Linked DNA regions of Homo sapiens: region 2 is linked to region 1. The links come from fine-mapping of genetic effects on gene expression. Tissue or cell type: whole blood. Region 1 holds a variant in brackets; the other region holds the start of a gene. All regions are shown on one strand. Distances are from middle to middle.

Region 1 (2,758 bases):
GGACTCAAGCAATCTGCCCATCTTGGCTTCCCAAATTACTGGGATTACAGGCGTGAACCACCGCGCCTGGCCAACTAGTGCAAATTTATAAACATCAATCACATGAGGACTATGGCATAAGTTTAAAGCCAGTGAATTAAGTTAATGGCTAGATTATGTGAAAATCAGGCTAGGATGCTTTTAGGCTACAAGTTTGTCACTGAGATTGAACCAATTAAAATAAAATCTTACCTTTAAACAAGTCTGTTGACTAAGTATGTAAATTGGAGCTTGGAGGCTTAAATGTAGAGAATTCATTTACTAATATTTCAAGGTCATGCCCAAAATAATGGTAATGTTGCTCTTTTAATTTTGTCTTTGATGTCAGTTCTCACTTACATAAAAATATTTTTAGGTAGGCCAGAACTAGAGGTCTAATGACTGTCTACCTTTGATGAGTTTCCTCTTCCTTTTCTTTTATTCTAAATTCAGGCAAAAAAATCATTTTTTCAACATATTTTAATTTCTCAAGTACCAGTTTTCTTGAATTGTTTGAAGCAATCTAAGAGTAAATGAATGAACCCAGTAAAATACAAGAAGTACAAAAATAAGTTACTTCAGTCAAGGTACTTTGTCTTTCTGGGCCTTGATTCAAACAGTGATAAAAAGAAGAGATTGGATTAGATGATACCCAAGTTTCATTCTCTCTTTTTTTTCTTTTCTTTTCTTTCTTTTTTTTTTTTTTTTTTTGAGACGGAGTCCCGCTGTTTAGCCCAGGCCGGATTGCAGTGGCGCAATCTCGGCTCACTGCAAGCTCCGCCTCCCAGGTTCACGCCATTCTCCTGCCTCAGCCTCCCGAGTAGCTGGGACTACAGGCGCCCGCCACCGCGCCCGGCTAATTTTTTGTATTTTTAGTAGAGACGGGGTTTCACCGTGTTAGCCAAAATGGTCTCGAACTCCTGACCTTGTGATCCGCCCGCCTCGGCCTCCCAAAGTGCTGGGATTACAGGCGTGAGCCACCGTGCCCAGCCTTTTTTTTTTTTTTACCTAGTCACTTTTTTTTTTCCAAACACACTTCTTTTTTTAATTTTTTTATTTTTTTTTTTAAGTTTTGGGATACACATGCAGAACATGCGGGTTTGTTACATAGGTATAGATGTGCCATAGTGGTTTGCTGCACCTATCAACCCATTATCTAGGTTTTAAGCCCCACATGCATTATGTATTTGTCCTAATGTTCTCCCTCCCCTTACTCCCAACCCCCGACAGGCCCTGGTGTGTGTTGTTCCCCTCCCTGTGTCCATATGTTCTCATTGTTCAGCTCCCACTTATGAGTGAGAACATGCGGTGTTTGGTTTTC[C/T]ATTCCTGTGGTTTTCTTTTTTTTTTTTTTTAATACTGTAAGTTCTAGGGTACACGTACACAACGTGCAGGTTTGTTACATATGTATAAATGTGCCATGTTGGTGTGCTGCACCCATTAACTCGTCATTTACATTAGGTGTATCTCCTAATGCTATCCCTCCACCCTCACCCCACCCCATGACAGGCCCCAGTGTATGATGTTCCCCTTCCTGTGTCCAAGTGTTCTCATTGTTCAATTCCCACCTATGAGTGAGAACATGCAGTGTTTGGTTTTCTGTCCTTGCAATAGTTTGCTGAGAATGATGGTTTCCAGCTGCATCCATGTCCCTACAAAGGACATGAACTCATCCTTTGTTATGGCTGCATAGTATTCCATGGTGTATATGTGCCACATTTTCTTAATCCAGTCTATCATTGATGGACATTTGGGTTGGTTCCAAGTCTTTGCTATTGTGAATAGTGCTGCAAAAAACATACGTGTGCACTTGTTTTTATAGCAGCATGATTTATAATCCCTTGGGTATATACCCAGTAACGGGATGGCTGGGTCAAATGGTATTTCTGGTTCTAGATCCTTGAGGTATTGTCACACTGACTTCCACAATGGTTGAACTAGTTTACAGTCCCACCAACAGTGTAAAAGTGTTCCTATTTCTCCACATCCTCTCCAGCACCTGTTGTTTCCTGACTTTTTAATGATCGCCATTCGAACTGCTGTGAGATGGTATCTCACTGTGGTTTTGATTTGCGTTTCTCTGATGACCAGTGATGATGAGCCTTTTTTCATGTGTCTGTTGGCTGCATAAATGTCTTCTTTTGAGAAGTGTTTGAGTTCTTTGTAGATTCTGGATATTATATCTGGATATAAAAACTGGAGCAGTTTTGAGTGAGTTTCTTAATCCTGAGTTCTAGTTTGATTGCACTGTGGTCTGAAAGACAGTTTGTTATAATTTCTGTTCTTTTACATTTGCTGAGGAGTGCTTTACTTCCAACTATGTGGTCAATTTTGGAGTAAGTGTGATGCGGTGCTGAGAAGAATGTATATTCTGTTGATTTGGGGTGGAGAGTTCTGTAGATGTCTATCAGGTCTGCTTGGTGCAGAGCTGAGTTCAATTCCTGGATATCCTTTTTAACTTTCTGTCTCATTGATTTGTCTAATGTGGACAATGGGGTGTTAAAGTCTCCTATTATTATTGTGTGGGAGTCTAAGTCTCTTTGTAAGTCTCTAAGGACTTGCTTTATGAATCTGGGTGCTCTTGTATTGGGTGCATATATATTTAGGATAGTTAGCTCTTCTTGTTGAATTGATCCCTTTACCATTATGTAATGGCCTTCTTTGTCTCTTTTGATCTTTGTTGGTTTAAAGTCTGTTTTATCAGAGACTAGGATTGCAACCCCTGCCTTGTTTTGTTTTCCAT
Region 2 (2,758 bases), 69 kb before region 1:
TTGCTGAATCCCTTTACTCAAGGCTTTTACACAGGGTTAAATTTGGGTGGTGGTTTTATTTTTTTTTTAACCACCATATATACATCTTGGTTGTACTTATTTATTACTGTGCAACCACCTCTGCTCCCTTTCTAGAATTTAGTGCAATAGAAAAGGCATTACCTTTAACCTAACATTTGGGACTTTGAACTAAACTTTTGCACATGTTTTAAGAGCCCATTATCTCTTAAGTTGGACTCTTCCTAAATCTCTGCCGCCAAACCTACTTTATTGAAATCCTTTGAAACCCAAGTCTTTCCACATTTTGGCTCTCTCTGAAGTTTCTTTCTTTCTTTCTCTTTCTTTCTTTCTTTCCTTTTCTTAACCCTATATTATAGTGTCTGGTAATAACAACATATATAGACACCACACTATGTGTCTGGTAATAATATAGAGACCACACTATGTGCACTATGTACAATTATAATCCTTATTTTTATACAGGATAGAACTGAGGCAAGAAAGAGTAAATAACTTGCTCAAGGTCACATAGAAGGTAATTGAACAGAGAATCTACCCCAAAGCTGTGAGCTTAATTACTCTCAAGCTCCGGGGTCAAAGAGATCTGGTGTCCATTCTTATCACGTCTCCCTTTTTGCGGGGATGGTGCCTGTTAATTTATTCAGCTTCTTCGACGCGGTTTCCCTTTCAATAAGATTGAGATAAAGCATTTTTCGAAAGATCTAGATTGAGATAAAGCATTCTTTGAAAGATCTAGCAGTAAATGAGAGCTGCGTGAGGGATCCGATTCAGTCCCTAGCTCTGGATAACTGTCAGTGCTTCTACGCACCCCACCTTAAGCCCCTCGCAGGCAGGACTGGGTCCTGCTCCTCTAAATACTCCCATCTCATAGTGGGGGCGCAATAACGTCCGTTTAAGACGAATCGTCCAAGGGACTTCTATGCATCCAGCTGGCACACTGGCCGGAGTCTCACTTTATCCCCACATCTCTCCGCGCCCTGGACCTAGGCTTGCCACACTCTGCCATCCGCTGCTTTTCCAGCCCGGCTCCTCTCTCAGTCCGGGACTACTATCCCGGGCGCGGGCTCGGGTCTTACCATGGCATCGTAGCGCAGGGCGTTCATGAAGTGCGCCACCTCGGCGCCCTTGTACACGGTGAACCAGATAGTGCCCTGGTACTGGTCGCCGGCGTCCAGCAGCAGCACGTTGGGTTCGGCGCGGCGGATCTGCTGAACCTTGGTGAAGAGCCGAGCCACGCCACCCATGCAGCGGCTGGCGTTGACGCACTTGCTGGAGTCCTCGCTGGTCTGCTCCAGCCGGCTGTGCACGTCGTTGGTGTGCAAAATCGTAAGCTCCCAGGCGCCAGCCGCAGGCCACAGCACCGCGCCCAGGGCGAGGAGTAGCGTCGCGGGCGCCCGCGCGGCTCGGGGACACATAGCTGTGGCGCGTGAACTGGGTGCGAAAGCGGGCGAGCCGGGCGAGTGCCGGCGAGTAGGGGCGAGCAGCTAGGGCCGGGGCTCGGTGCCCCGGCTGGAGGGGCGGGGCCCGGGTCAAGGCCGGGGCGGGTCCTTCTTCAGCCTGGAGGCCGGCTTGGCGGCCAGGCGCAAGTTCGCGACGTCACCCGATCCGACCCTGGTACCCGGAGCGGCCCTGGCGCGGCTGTCGGCTGGCACCAGCTCCCTGCAGGAAGAGTGGAGAGGTTGTTCCCGGCGGGGAGCGGGTACCGGCCGCATCCCGGCCGGACCAGGGAGCCTGGGCGCCGGCAGTTCGGCTGCTGGTGCGCCGCTCTTTCGGGGGCGCGAGGAAGGAATTGGAGGGGTCCGCCCCGCGCCTGGGTCCTCTCTGAGTCTCGCCTCATTCGAGGCACGGGTTTTTCTACAAAAGGAATGTATGGTTTGTGGTTGCGCTAGCTCATCACTTCAAAGAACCAAAGAAGGAAAAGAGAGGGGGCGGGAAGAAAGATGAGCGAGCTGAGGGGCAGAGAGGAGGAGTAAAGAGAGGCCGGGCAGAGGAGCTCCTTGCAGTTTCGGGCTGTGAGAGCCGAAGCTCACTGAGATGTGACGCTTCCTGTTGGGTTGAGAACGCACGAAGTCTACGATGCTTAGACAAAAAAATCTCAGAAACTAAGAAATCATTCGAATCCAGTTCCTTGTTTATTCACAATTAAAACCTTAGTGATAAAACAGAGGCGACGCGCGGACAGCTCCTGGAAGCAGAAACACGATTGGGGTAAAATCCGGCAGCTATCAGGACGGGAAGGGATGCTGCCCTTCTTTGCTTTTCTGGTCTTATTTTATTTTATTTTATTTTTATTTTGTCGCGTGTGCTTTCGGTGTCGCAGTGAAGTCATAGCCAAATACAATGTTAGGAAGATTTTCCTCTATGTTTTCTCCTAAGAGTTTTATAATTTAAACTCTTAGACCTTTAATCCATTTTGAGTTAATTTTCATATGTGGTATGAGTCCACATTTACTCTTTTTCATGTGGATATCCAGTTTTCTTAGTACCATTTGTTGAAAAGACATTCTGTGCCCGTTTTTAAGACATTGACCTGAGGTTCGGAGATTGTAAATCATTTGCCAAGAAAGGCCATGCAGTTTGGGAGCAGCAGTGCCTGGGGCTACAGAAGACCCTTGCTTCTGGGACACCCTCTAATGTCATGCTTTGCAAGGTTTTGCTCTGTCCCTCTTTGAGCACCTGCTAGAAGCAGGTAAAAGAACTGGTAGTTTTGCTGTTTTAACTTAAAAAAAGAATGATT

Evidence for each region. PIP is the estimated chance that this variant, and not a neighbour inherited with it, causes the effect.
Region 2: it holds the start of NT5E, and the variant in region 1 is fine-mapped to the expression of NT5E in whole blood (INTERVAL, PIP 0.92).

The regions. Positions count from the first base shown.
Region 1 is chr6:85,379,503-85,382,260 of GRCh38, reverse strand. No RefSeq gene overlaps it. Among named protein-coding and RNA genes, the nearest start is that of LINC02535, 24 kb to the left of the region's middle. The variant C/T (reference allele first, on the strand shown) is at 1,340.
Region 2 is chr6:85,448,818-85,451,575 of GRCh38, reverse strand. NT5E (5'-nucleotidase ecto) reads right to left here and starts at 1,493. Exons shown (of 9, transcript NM_002526.4): 1 at 1,098-1,493. The coding sequence starts at 1,436. RefSeq lists a silencer at 1,431-1,700.